Linked DNA regions of Homo sapiens. The protein of the gene in region 1 interacts with the protein of each later gene in a biochemical or structural test. Each region holds a gene or a part of one and is shown in the gene's direction. Other genes may lie near its edges.

What was found.
Region 2: of the proteins of LMTK2 (region 1) and PPP1R2, one has a biochemical effect on the other in vitro, tested with the Homo sapiens proteins (one study listed by IntAct).

The regions. Positions count from the first base shown.
Region 1 is NC_000007.14:98,186,858-98,193,876, forward strand, and holds part of LMTK2 (serine/threonine-protein kinase LMTK2 precursor), read left to right. Parts: intron 1-19; coding exon 20-141; intron 142-3,870; coding exon 3,871-4,020; intron 4,021-4,756; coding exon 4,757-7,019. UniProt on the Homo sapiens protein: Phosphorylates PPP1C, phosphorylase b and CFTR.
Region 2 is NC_000003.12:195,540,310-195,548,120, reverse strand, and holds the start of PPP1R2 (protein phosphatase inhibitor 2), read left to right. Parts: upstream 1-4,795; 5' UTR 4,796-5,095; coding exon 5,096-5,217; intron 5,218-7,811. UniProt on the Homo sapiens protein: Inhibitor of protein-phosphatase 1.

The DNA.
Region 1 (7,019 bases):
GTGCTTTCTAACAAAACAGGAGGATTATATTGAAACAGATGATAAAAAAGTTTTCCCTCTGCGATGGACTGCTCCAGAATTAGTAACCAGCTTTCAAGACAGACTGCTAACTGCAGATCAGACTAAGTATAGTAATATCTGGTACGTATTGGCTTACCGTTTTATTAGTCATTTCTTTGGCAAAGTCCTAACTTCTTCCTCTTTGAGTACTTCCTTAAAGGAAAGTAGTTGTATAAGATGTAGGAACAAAAGAGTATCTGATGGTGTGAAAAAGACAGTTTAAAAGACACAAATAGTAATTATCACAATTGTGGTGATGGAGTTAACGTTTTGAATACTGCCCCTGCTACCCATTTTCCTTTAGAAAAGCAGGAACCAAGTCTGTTTCATATTCTGTGCCTCCCACAGGGCCTGACATGTAATAGATATTTAATATGTATTTATTGAAGTGAAAGAAGAAACTGAAAGGGGTGTGGACTATCATGTTTATACTATGATTTATAGGAGTCAGTTTAATGGGAGCTAAAAAGATGCACCTAAAACTTTGACTAACAATTTCTGTCACAGCCTTCTTAATTTATAGCTATGTTTTATGTGCTGTTGTCCTGCTTTTTTTTTTCTCTCCTTGCTTTCTTTTGGATTGATTTCTTTAAAACAATTTTTTTGCTTTTATTATTTTTTTCATTGATGCATATAATTGGACATATTTATGGGGTACAGTGATATATATATATGTTTTTGTTGTTGTTGTTGTTGTTGTTGTTTTGAGATAGAGTCTCACTGTCGCCCAGGCTGGAGTACAGTGGTGTAGTCTCGGCTCACGGCTCACTGCAGTGTCCACCTCCCTGGTTCAAGTAATTCTTGTGCCTCAGCCTCCCGAGTAATTGGGATTACCAATATGTACTACCACACCATTTTTGTACTTTTAGTAGAGATGGAGTTTTGCCATGGCTGGTCTCGAACTCCTGAACTCAAGTGATCCGCCTGCCTCGTCCTCCCAAAGTACTGGGATTACAGGCGTGAGCCACCGCACCTGGCCCAGTGTAATATTTTGATACCTATATACAGTGTGTGATGATCAAATCAGGGTAACTAGTATCCCCTTCACTCCAGACATGTATCATTTTTTCTTTTTGTTTTTGGGAACATTCAAAAGCCGCTCTTAGAGCTGTTTGAAAATATACAAAAATTTGTTGTTAATTATAGTCACCCTTCAGTGCTTTAGAACACTAGATCTTATTCCTCCTTCCCAGCCGAAATTTTGTATTCGTTAGTCAGCTTCTCACTATTCCTCCTCTCCCTCCCCTTCCCTGCCTCAAGTAATCACTCTTCTACTCTCTACTTCTATGAGATCAACCTTTTTATCTTCCACGAGTGATGAGGTTTTCTTCCTTTTTCTTTCCCCCTTGTGTATCTGCTCTACCTAGTGTATCGTGAGTCTGATACTTCTGTGTTTTTTCATGTTGATGGTTATCCTCCTTTAGCTTCCAGATACAGGACTCCTGGACCATTTCTCTTAAGGCATGTCTCATAATGATGAATTCCTTCAGTTTTTGCTTATCTGGGAAAGACTTTATTTCTCCATTTTTTAAAAAAAGTTATTATTATATATATTTTTTTAGTAGAGACGAGGTCATGCTGTGTTGCCCAGGCTGGTCTTGAACTCCTGGCCCCAAGCAATCCTCATGCCTTAGTCTCCTAGAGTGCTGGGATTATAGTCATGAGCCATCGCGCCCAACCCTCCTTCATTTCCGAAGGATATCTTTGCAGGGCATAGTGTTCTTGGCTGCCAATTTCAGTACTTTGAGTATACCATCCTATTCTCTGCTTCCCTCCTATGTGACTTAATGCTTTTCTCTGGCTGTTTTTAGAATTTTTATCTTTGTCTTTGGCTTTTGACAATTTGACTATAATGTGCCTCTGAAATGACCTTTTGGGGTTGATTGTATTTTAAGGACCTTTGAGCTTCCTGGATCTGGATGTCTGTATCTCTCCCAAGACTTGGGAAGTTTTTAAGCTGTTCTTTCCTTAAATAGCCTTTCTCTGCCTTCTCCTAGCTCTTTTATTTCTGTAACTCCCATAATGTGTGTATTTGTTTGCACTGTAGTCTCCCATAAGCCCTGAAGCCTCCCTTCACTCCTTTTCATTCTTCTGTCTTTTTCCCTCTGACTGGGTGATTTCAAACAACCTTTCTTCAAGTTGAGAGGTTCTTCTGCTTGAGTCTGTTGTTGAAGTTCTGTATTTCTTTTTATTTCATTTATTGAATTCTTCAGCTGGGCTTACTGCCTGTGAGGACCCCAGGCGACCCCAGTGTGAGGACTGTAGTGTCCACGGTGAGCAGTGTGAGGATGTAGGGGTCCACAGTGAGATCCTCTTACTTGCCCTTACCTGGAAGAGAAAGTTGCTCCTGGTTCCTGGCTGCGCCTGCCAGGGATGGGGTGGTGGAGGCCAGGCGTTTCCTTCCGCTCTCGCTGTGGCTGTCCTGAATCTCCTGAGTACCTGTTACTCCTTTGATGGGCTCTGGTGCTCTCCTTTAGTGATTTTTGTCAAAATGTAGTTGCTTCTTTGTTGTTTGGGGCGTGTCGTGGAGGGTTAGCTGGACATCAGAATCACTGGGGAACTTTTTAAAACGTGAGTTTTCTAGGCCACACCTGGATCTACCAACTAAGCATCCTTTAGGGGTGGATCTGACCTAGCAGTGTGTGTGTTCACGGCTTCCCAGAGGACACAGATGAGAGTCACGTTCGGGAACATTGCAGTAAATAGACACAAATGCGGGATGGAGGCAGTGCGTGGTGGGGAGGAAATGCAGAGACCTCGTGGAGGAAATGAGAGGCAGCTCCTCTGACCCAGGAAGCCAGCAGAGGCTGTTTCCATGGGGACAGAGCACCGCAGTGTGAGAGAGGATTGGGCTGGGACTGAGAAGGGCGTTCCTGCTGTGGTGAGGCAGCCCTCAGGGTCTCTCCTGGCACACAGCTGCCAGCGTGATGGGGGATCCCTTCAGAATAGCAGCAAAACCCACGATACTGAGGAGTAACTCAAACCAAACTTGTGGGTCTCACAGAGAGGATATCGTCTTGCCCATGTAAAGATTCCTTTTAGATGGTTTCTGGTGTTTACTAATGTTGTTAATAGGTGTATTTTTCTACCAAAAAAAAAAAATCAGAATTCAGGGTATTTATCTTGTTTCCAGCAATTCTGCCAAATTTTTAGAACATTCTGATGGTCTTTCCAATAATTTATTGAGTACTTAAAAGTTGATAGTCATCTCATCCACATAATTACACCTATTATCTCTGTTTTGTACTTTTTTCATTGGCCAAAACTTCTAGGGTGGTATTCAGTAGCAAATAGGAGGCATGGTCTTCCTCATTTTAACAGAAATGCCTCTTTTTTTGCTATTGTGCTGTTGATTATTGGTTTCAGATTAAAGAACAATCTTGGCTGGTTGTGGTGGCTCACGCCTGTAATCTCAGCACTTTGGAAGGCCAAGGCAGGTGGATCACCTGAGGTCAGGACTTTGAGAGCAGCCTGGCCAACGTGGTGAAACCCTATCTCTACTAAAATTATAAAAATTGGCAGGGCATGATGGCTTGTGCCTGTAATCCCAGTTACTTGGGAGGCTGAGGCAGGAGAATCACTTGAACCCGGGAGGCAGAGGTTGCAGTGAGTGGAGATCACACCATTGCACTCCAGCCTGGGCGACAGTGAGACTCTGTCTTAAAACAACAACAACAACAACAAAGATCCTATTAATAATCTTTTCAATACACACCTTGTCCTTAAAATTACTGGCTATGTAACAAGTATGAGTGTTAAAAATTTGACATCTAAAGGGAGAGAGAAACAGCCATTTTCTTTTTCCAACAGGTCTCTGGGTGTGACACTTTGGGAGCTTTTTGACAATGCCGCACAGCCGTATTCAAACCTTTCCAACTTAGATGTCCTCAACCAAGTCATTAGAGAGAGAGACACAAAACTCCCGAAGCCCCAGCTGGAGCAGCCCTACTCTGATAGATGGTTGGTAGCCTCACATTCCGCCTGTTCTGTTTCGTCTTCACTGTGAGGTGTCCCCAAAACACAAAAAAATTCGTGGGCCAAATATTATGTTTCTTCATTTCCTCTTTCACCATGATGTCACCATGAGCTGAACTACTTAATGTGGTTGGCAGTGATGAAGGTGTAGAAATGTTTCGGGTGTTGAGTTGGCTTTAGGGTCCTTGTAAATTCTTTTCATATTGTTTATTTATTTATTTTTATTTAAAAAAAAATGTAGAGACAGGGTCTCAGTATGTTGCCCAGGCTGTTCTTGAACTCCTGGCTCAAGTGATCCTCCCACTTCAGCCTCCCATTGCCCCAGGATTACAAGTGTGAGCCAGGGTGCCTGGCCTCTTTTGATATTTTTAACTGATTCGGCCAGGCACAATGGCTCATCCCTGTAATCCCAGCACTTTGGGAGGCTGAGGTGGGCAGATCACGAGGTGAGGAGTTCAAGACCAGCCTGGCCAACATGGTGAAACCCCGTCTGTACTAAAAATACAAAAATTAGCTGGGCGCGGCAGCGGGCGCCTGTAATCCCAGCTGCTCGGGAGGCTGAGGCAAGAGAATTGCTTGAACCCAGGAGGCAGAGGTTGCAGTGAGCCGGGATCATGCCACTGCACTCCAGACTGGGTGACAGAGCAAGACTCCGTCTCGAACCAAAAAAAAAAAAAAAATTCGTGATGGTTCCACTGATTGCTTGTCGTGTGCTGCTCAGGTATGAAGTCTTACAGTTCTGTTGGCTGTCACCAGAAAAGAGACCCGCGGCTGAAGATGTGCACAGGCTGCTGACTTACCTGCGGCTGCAGAGCCAGCGGGACTCAGAGGTCGACTTTGAACAGCAGTGGAACGCTCTGAAGCCGAACACAAACAGCAGAGACTCCTCCAACAATGCTGCATTCCCAATTCTCGACCACTTTGCCAGGGACCGGCTGGGTCGTGAAATGGAGGAAGTCCTCACCGTGACCGAAACCAGCCAGGGCCTGAGCTTCGAGTATGTCTGGGAGGCCGCTAAGCACGACCACTTTGACGAGCGCAGCCGGGGCCACCTGGACGAAGGCTTGTCCTACACGAGCATCTTCTATCCGGTTGAAGTTTTTGAGAGTTCGCTTTCAGATCCTGGGCCCGGAAAGCAAGATGACAGCGGCCAGGATGTCCCCCTGAGGGTCCCTGGAGTGGTTCCTGTTTTTGATGCCCACAACCTTTCTGTTGGAAGCGACTATTATATCCAGTTAGAAGAAAAAAGTGGTAGTAACTTGGAGCTTGATTACCCACCAGCGCTGCTCACAACCGACATGGATAATCCAGAAAGGACTGGCCCTGAACTGTCCCAGCTCACGGCGCTCAGGAGCGTTGAACTTGAGGAGTCCAGTACAGATGAGGACTTCTTCCAAAGCAGTACAGACCCCAAAGACTCTAGCTTACCAGGGGACTTACACGTGACCAGTGGCCCCGAGAGCCCTTTCAACAATATATTTAATGATGTGGACAAATCGGAAGATTTGCCCAGTCACCAAAAAATATTCGACTTAATGGAATTAAACGGAGTTCAAGCCGACTTTAAACCTGCCACTTTAAGTTCCAGTTTGGATAACCCCAAAGAGTCAGTCATAACAGGCCACTTTGAGAAAGAAAAGCCCCGTAAGATTTTTGACAGTGAGCCTCTCTGCCTATCAGATAATCTTATGCACCAAGATAATTTTGATCCATTGAATGTTCAAGAATTGTCAGAAAACTTTTTATTTCTTCAAGAGAAAAACTTACTAAAAGGCTCATTGTCCAGCAAAGAACACATAAATGATCTTCAGACAGAACTTAAGAATGCTGGTTTTACTGAAGCTATGTTAGAAACGTCATGTAGAAACTCTTTAGATACTGAGCTTCAGTTTGCTGAAAATAAGCCAGGCTTGTCTTTGTTGCAGGAAAACGTAAGCACAAAGGGTGACGATACAGATGTCATGCTCACAGGTGACACTTTGAGCACCTCATTGCAGTCTTCCCCGGAAGTGCAGGTACCTCCTACCTCCTTCGAAACAGAAGAAACGCCCCGTCGGGTACCCCCAGACTCACTCCCAACACAGGGAGAAACCCAGCCCACGTGTTTAGATGTTATTGTCCCGGAGGACTGTCTCCACCAGGACATCAGTCCAGACGCTGTGACTGTCCCGGTTGAAATTCTCTCAACTGATGCCAGAACCCACAGCCTGGATAACAGGTCCCAGGACTCTCCTGGCGAGAGTGAGGAGACCCTGCGACTCACCGAAAGTGACTCTGTTCTTGCTGATGACATCCTTGCCAGCAGGGTGAGTGTAGGGAGTAGTCTCCCGGAACTGGGACAGGAATTGCACAATAAACCATTTTCGGAAGACCATCACAGTCATCGCCGGCTAGAGAAAAACTTAGAGGCTGTGGAGACTTTAAATCAGCTCAATTCTAAAGACGCAGCAAAAGAAGCAGGCTTGGTGTCTGCCCTCTCCTCGGACTCAACCAGTCAGGACAGCCTCCTGGAGGACAGCTTGTCAGCACCCTTCCCAGCCTCTGAGCCGTCCCTGGAAACCCCGGACTCTCTGGAGTCAGTGGATGTCCACGAAGCGCTACTGGACTCTTTAGGATCTCACACTCCCCAGAAACTAGTGCCCCCCGATAAGCCGGCAGACAGTGGCTACGAAACAGAGAACTTGGAGTCTCCCGAGTGGACCTTGCATCCCGCTCCCGAGGGCACCGCAGACTCAGAACCAGCCACCACGGGCGATGGCGGCCACAGCGGTCTGCCTCCCAACCCGGTCATTGTCATCTCAGATGCCGGCGATGGTCACAGAGGCACAGAAGTGACCCCTGAGACGTTCACAGCTGGCTCCCAGGGTTCATACCGAGACTCTGCGTACTTCTCAGACAATGACTCTGAGCCCGAGAAAAGGTCTGAGGAGGTCCCGGGAACCTCCCCATCCGCCTTGGTGTTGGTACAGGAGCAGCCCCTACCC
Region 2 (7,811 bases), on another chromosome or scaffold:
TGCGTGGAGTCGGAGAAGGAGATGACCTTTGAACTGGGGTAATTTAAAAGCAAGAATAGGGGATGGTATTTCACATAGATTAGTAAAGGCATGAAAAAGGGACAGAATATAGGTTGCTCTGACACCCTGAGAAGGGCAGTGTGACTAGTGTGAAGAACATAGCAGAAAGCAAGTGGATGTAAAAAGAGAAGGAGACTAGAAGAACAGACAGGGCTGGATTGTGAAGGCCCAAGGGATTTGGACTTCATCCTAGACAATGAGCAACCACGGCAGACTGAGTTCCTTGAGCAAAAAAAAAAAAAGAGGGGCAAGTTCTTTTTTTTTTTTTTTTTTTTTGAGATGGAGTCTTGCTCTGTCACCAGGCTGGAGTGCAGCGGCGCAATCTCACTGCAACCACTGCCTCCCGGGTTCAAGCGATTCTCCTGCCTCAGCCTCCCAAATAGCTGGGACTACAGGCGCGCGCCACCATGCCCAGCTAATTTTTGTATTTTTAGTAGAGACGGGGTTTCACCATGTTGGCCAGGATGGTCTCCATCTCTTGACCTCGTGATCTGCCCACCTTGGCCTCCCAAAGTGCTGGGATCACAGGCGGGAGCCACCGCGCCTGGCCAAGAAGGGCAAGTTCTAATTGTTTCCCCAAGCGTAACACTGTGTGTGGCAAAGTGGAGTTGAATTTATAAACTAAGGATCATTGCATATCCCAATTTAAAAAAAAATATGAGAACAGTATGAAGATGAATGGGCAGTGAAGAAAGCGGAGTCCTCAGACCAATCTGGAGACAACAAATAAAATAATAAAATTACGCATTTGAGACGTTTCAAACAAGAATGAGTGCTAACGAGCATAAATACAATAGTAAAGTAAAAAAGTCTTCCAATGGTGACTTTTGACTATGTAGGCTTCAAAATATATTTAGGGTTTTCCATGAAGCATTTATAGCAACATCACATATGTTCTGAATCAAAGCCTATACTCCTTATCCCATTATGAGTTCATAGAATAACAAAATGCAAGATAATTTGGCAAAATTGACACAATGAAATTATAATACACAACATTGCTCCCTTGCTTCTTGCAATAATAAACCAAACCAATTAACACTTACAGAAAATTTACAGTCACAAAAGACTGAGTGATTTCTGGCAGGCACAAGGTAAATTCATAGCTTAGCCAAAAAACTAACTCATATTTCCTACTTACCATTCCAAGGTTTGTTACACTGCGTGTCCTGCCTTCTTCTTTCGTTTTTGCCTCACAGGTTCTGAAAGAAGTAATTGCCTAGAGTCTCTGAATTTAACCAGTTTTTAAAAGGATCAGGAAACATCTAGGGACTAATGAAATCTCTGTGTACCCTAGGGGGGCCTATGCTCTGTGACTCTTCTCAGAAAAGTATTTTGGCCACTTGGTAAGGTTAAGGAATCCTTTCAGTAGATGTCTTTGAAGAGAAGAGAAACAGTGGAGCATTCCATGGTTGCAAATCAAAGCCATTTTTTTTAAGCAGAAAAATGATTAATCTTTGTCCTTGGCTTTTTCTCTCTCTGAAACTTTCTGTTTTGTTTAAATGATCTTGCCCCTGCTACCATGAATTTCTACAATGTATTTAATATGACAAAATCTGTGATCTTCTCTTTCCGGGGAGGGATTACCTGAAAAGGAAAAGAACAATGTGCTATTCTTGGCAAGAAAAGAGTTGCTGCTGACTCAGTGGTCATGAAGTCACAACTTTTGGGAATTTTTCCAGATGTTAGGCGGGGGCACTACCCACTTCTCTACTCTGTGGACCTAGCTGATGACTCAGGCAGGCTGGGTGAGCCAACCATGGAAGCCACTGTTGCTTTGGAACTCTGTCCTTGGTGGGAAACCCAATGGTGGTGTCCATAGTCGTCTGTTCCAGTGAATGGAGAGCCAAATGACTCAGCCACGTGATGGGGTACAATAAAAGTGTCCCCTCTCCTCCTCCAAATATGTTGTGTTGGGTCAGGCAACCATGATAATGAAGTCTTCAAAAAGAGAGCAGAGATAAATGCCAGATTATCCTTAAATCATGTATATATCTTTAAATATATGATTTGCCTTGAGCTCAATAGCTACTTCCAGAAACTGAAACCAGAATGAAAGATTCTATCTACAATTCACCTCCTGGCAGCCAAACCCTCAACACACAGGAAATGTAACAGCAATACAGCTAAATTCAGTGCTCGGGCTGTTTGGTCCAGATAACTTCCTACAGGAGCAAACCTCAGCAGAGGCACAGAAGGAGAGCTCTGTTTAGAGGCATTTGAAAATCTTATTTGGGCCACACTGAGGAATAAAGTAGTTCAACTATTCTGAAAGATAAGGAAAAGCAGGCCATGTGTGGTGGCTCATGCCTATAATCCCAGCACTTTGGGAGGCTGAGGCGGGCAGATCACCTGAGGTCAGAAGTTTGAGACAAGCCTGGCCAACATGATGAAACCCCATCTCTACTAAAAATACAAAAATTAGCTGGGTGTGGTGGCAGGCACCTGTAGTCCCAGCTACTCGGGAGGCTGAGGCAGGAGAATCACTTGAACCCAGGAGGCAGAGGTTGCAGTGAGTGGAGATTGTGCCATTGCATTCCAGCCTGGGCGACAGAGCAAGACTTTGTCTCAAAAAAAAAAAAAAAAAAAGCAGTACTGGCCCTCACAATTTTACAAACTATTTTTTTTTAAGTGCTACCAAAGTCATCTTCATCTGCATTCATTTGTTGTGGGTTTGGGAGTGGAAGAACCAGTACAGGAGACAAAAGTTTAACTCTTGATGAGGGAAATATGTTTCCAAGGTTCTTCAGAGAACTCTTCATCACCTCCTGTTCCAATGTTTGTTAGTTAATTAACTAATAAAACACTTTATGTCATACGATCGTAGTCCCTTTCATTAGAGGGTCTGAAAGCAAGCTGTTGCTTAATCAAGGGCCCAGTCACAGTTGAGTTCAGGGATGCTGAACTCAGTGATGCTTCCCAGCCCAAGCAGGAACAAAGCAAATCTGCCCAATAATTTGGAACATACAGGGAAGTTTGTGTATTCCCTTGAAAACAGGATTGCCATCACTGACCTAGACTCCTGCTGACAGGGCAGGAGACGCAACACAGGTGTTGAACACTGGGGTGGAAAGAACTCAGGAAGGGAAGGGAGGTGGCCATCCTGCTTCCCCTCGCTGAGAACCCTCTCTCTCTGCTCCATGGGCTGGACAGGGCTGTCAGGGTGTAATGTTAGATCCACTGAGCAGTCCTGGCCTGGGAGGGAGAGACGGCACCAGTGGATATTTGACTGGGAACAAAGGTGGGGACAGTGCCAACAGTGACTGTGCAGGCCCCTGGCTGAGGCAAATCCCTGGGGAACACATTCCACTCTGTGACCAGCAACCCTGTTTCCCTTCTCCCCTTCCAGCTCACTTCCCCTCCATTATCTCCATCCACATCCATTCCCATACTGAGGCCCTGTTCTGTGCCAGGAACTCATCTAGGAGCTAGGGGCTCGGGGCCAGACGATAAAAACAATCGTTTTCAGAACCCTACAGTCATCCCTGAGGGGCAGAGTCCTAAGGACACAGAACAGGGTCATCCTCAAAAGGCACAGAGCCTGTGTTAAAGAAGATGAGACTGTGGTCCAGAGATGAGCCATGGGAGTGAAACTGCTGCTATAGGGGCTAGATAGGGGAAAACGCTTCCTCTCACCCCCCACAGCAGTGGACAGACATTGCTGGGAGCGAGGTGTCAGCTCAATCTAAGAACTCCCAGAGTCAGAGCTGTCCAAAAACAAAATGAGTTACACGGGGGTGTGGCGGGCTTCTAGCCCCTGGGGTTGTTGGAGAAACAGGCTGAATAGCCACCTTATGGGCCTGCTTGACAAGGTCCCTTCCAGGACCAGTGGTCTGTGAATCCGCAGGGGCTGGTCCACCGGAGGGGCCAGTTCTGGGTGGCTCAGTCTGCTGTGCTCTAACCTGTGGTGAGGACGATAAAAAGGCCTGATCAAGAAAGAGTCATGGAAAAGAGCCTGGTGATGAGCGAGCTGCGGACTGGACTTGGGAGAGGGAGGGAAGGGAGTGTACAGGGACCATAACAAATACCACACACGAGGTGGCTTTAAGCAATGGAAATGGGCTCTCCGTTCTGCAGGCTTGAAGTCCACATCAACCTGCGGCAGAGTTGGTTCCCTCTGTGGGGGGAACCTGTCGCGGCCTCTGCGGGCCCAGGAGGTCCTTGGCTGGGAGATGTGTCCCTGCCGCCCTCCCGTCTCCTGCGCTCTCTGCCTAGACGGGTTGTGCGACGGCGGGGGTCGCTGCCCGTCTGTCCGTCGGCTTCTCCAGCGGTAAAAGGAGGTGAGGCGATTCCAATGCAGACATTCTATGATTTCATAATAGGCCTCTAAGGACCACTCCAATGCTGGCAGTCCATGCTTTTATAATAGGCAGTTCGGCTGTTTACACGGGCGAAATGGAAAGAGGAGATACCCGTTTTCTTCAAGTCAGCTAACCTCTCTGCGGAGTGACGTCACCTCGAGTCTCAGTCTGCTGATCTAAAAAATAAAAATAACACTACGGCCTCACAAGGTGGTGGGACGAGGGTGCTCGAGAGACGCGCGGGTCCGGGAAGCAGCAAGCCCGGGCGCTCTCCCGCAGGTTCTCAGAGACAGCTCCCGCCTCCCAGCGCCGCGCGGGGGCGGGGCGAGCAGCCCGGGCGGGACGGAGGGGGCGGGGCGAGGAGGTCGGCTTTGTTCTCGCCCCGCCCTCTCCCCGCCTCCTCCCTAGATATCGCGAGAGGGCGGGTCCGCTTGGCTTCGGCGTCGCGTCGCTCCTGCGCTGGAGCTCTAGGCCGGCGTCTCTCCGCGAGCCGCGGGTCAAGTGCCAGTGGCTAAGGGTGCGCGAGTAGCCGCCACCCGTTCGGCGTTGGCTCTGGCGTCGGGGTCGTTGTGTCGTGACAACCGCTGCGGTAGCCGTTTCCGAGGCAGCAGTTGCGGCCGCTTTAGCCCTGAGCGGGATCTGCGGCTGCCTGCGAGTCTCTGCTGTGCCGACCCTTCTCTTCGCGGACCCCACGCCAAGCAGCGACCCTGAGCCGACAGCCGGAGCGCCCGGCAATGGCGGCCTCGACGGCCTCGCACCGGCCCATCAAGGGGATCTTGAAGAACAAGACCTCTACGACTTCCTCTATGGTGGCGTCGGCCGAACAGCCCCGCGGGAATGTCGACGAGGAGCTGAGGTGAGCGCTGGGAGGGACGGCCTGGGAGCCCCTCCTTCCCGCCGGGCCCGTTACCTACCCAGACCCCAGGGGCGGGCGGGCGGCGTGGATGCGGCTCGGGTGCCGCTCGAGTCTCTTCTCCTGCCCGGCTAGCCGCGGGTGGGAGCGATCTTTAAGAAGGCTGGGCGATGACGTTTATCATGCTTCCTTTTTTTTTTTTAAGCATTTGGGCATATATAATATTTTTAAACATCATCTTTGAACTTTCTGTAATCGGGAACATCAAAGAATGAAATTGAAGCTTCAGATCTTCGACTGTTAAGCTTTTACTATTTCTTAACCTCATCTCTGAGGTATCTAAAATTCTTCGATAATTACAGTGTATTTTCTTGCTTTGGGAACCCTTTAAGATCTAGTCTCAAGCTAATAGGCGATCCGTCAAAGAAGAGACCATTTCCCCCATTAGCATTGTGCCACACTGTATTTCTGCATCTGCAACCAGAGTTTTGGGTGCTTTCTAGTTTTTGTTCCTGTTCAGAGATAGATCTAAGCTCAAAACAGTTCAAAGAGGAGCAACTTGAAATGACCCAGTGGTAATTTAGTTGCTCTTGCATACGCTAAAGATACACATGTAAAAAGTTGTTGACCTGAGCATTGTATGTAATATTTATAATATAATTGGAAACGACCGGAAGTCCATTAGTAAGAGCTGGTGAAATATTAATTACGGTACGTTTGTATAATGGAACAATATACTAGCCTTTAAAAAAAGAAAGGTAGGCGTTTATGCACGGAGAAAATGTTGCAGTACAGTATCTGTAGTGGGTTAGAAGTGCACGGGGGCTTGGGCGTTGCAAGATACTAAAAATAGAAGGACTCTACTTTCTGAAAATAAGGCTTAAGAAAAGTTACCATTGAAATTGGTAGTCAGAAGCTAAAATGAGGATGTTTGTGAAATCTCAGAATATAGGAACCTAGGGCATTCCTGGATAAAGGATCTTATTTAGGACCATAAAAGGAACTACTGCTTGGTGGTGGTAAATTTTAGGGATTTGTGTTACCTTGAAGGAAATATTGAGTAGGTTCATAGGTTAGAATCGTGGCCTTTTGGGGCTGGAAAGGACCTTAGTTTTTGTCTAGCAACTCCCACGCTCATGGATGCTTGAATCTTACATTCTCTCACACACAATTTTCCAACTTCTTTGGGCTAAGCCACGTTAAATGGAGTGCTGGGGGAGTGTGATGTGTAGGTCATGGAATTAAGAAGACAGAATTTCACCAGAACATAACTGAAGCAGGAGAACCAAGTTAGTTAAAAGATAAATAACATCCAGGCGTGGTGGCTCACGCCTGTAATCTCAGCACTTGGAGAGGCCAAGGTGGGAGGATTGCTTGATCCCAGGAGTTTGAGACCAGCCTGGGCAACATAATGAGACCTCATCTCTTAAAAAAAAAAAAAAAAAAAAAAAGGAAAGAAAAGAAAAGGAATTAAAAGATAAGTAACGTAACTACAGAAGGCTCAAATGTAGCTTCAGGGTTTTCAGCAGCAGGAATGTGGTCCTTACTGGCATTTATGTTATTTAGCTGTTCTCCAGTGTGAGTTTCTTTTGGTCCATTTACCAAGTGAGTTACTCTTTATCTCTGCTTCTTTAGTTTCTGTTTATTCTTAACTTGGATCTGCTGTAATTTCCCGTGGGCCCAATCTATGGATTGGCCTCTTTCTTTCTGTAATTGGTTGGGATTTACATTCAGGTCTTTCTGCCTCAAAAGCCACTATACTAGACTGACTCAACTGCATAGGGCTGCCTCTTCTGTAGTATCTGTGGCAGGGTAGATTCACTTAAAAGGGACTGACCTGTCGAGTTAGAGTTACAGTCCTGTCTTTAAAGAGAACTATCAAACCCTAATTCATTGAAGTTCATGATGTTTGGTTCCAAGTGGTAAAAAGGATGGGTTTTTTAATGATCCTTGTTATGTGACTGTAAAGCAAATAAACTAATTCTACTAGTAATACAATATAGTCTTAGTCTGTTTTCTGTTGGTCATAACAGAATGTCTGAAATGATAATTTATAAGAAACTGAATTTATTTCTTACGGTTCTGGAGGCTTGGAAGTCCAGGGTCTTAAGGGTGCATCTGGTGAGAGCGTTTTTGCTGGTGGGGACTCTGTGGAGTTCCAAGGTGGTGCAGGGCATCACATGGCAAGGAAGCTGAGCGTGCCAGCTCAGGTCTCTCTTCCTCTTCTTATAAAGCCACCAGAACCACTCACTTGATAACCCATTAATCCGTGAATAGATTAATCCATTCATCAGAGCAGAGCCCTCATGACCCAGTCACCTTTTAAAAGCTGTGCCTCTCCACACTGCCACATTGGAGATCAAGTTTCAACGTGAGTTTCAGAGAGGACAAACGTTCAAACCATACCAAATATACATTATTATTTGTCACAAGTCATGCAAACTTTATGAGATCCTCTTTGAACAGAAACAATAAATATACAGTTGGCCCCCTCCACAAATTCAGCCAATACCAAATAGCCCTTTACACTTGGGAGCCATTTTACACACCAGATTCACCAACAAAAATGCAGGAAAGGACCCTAAATAGGCCACGAA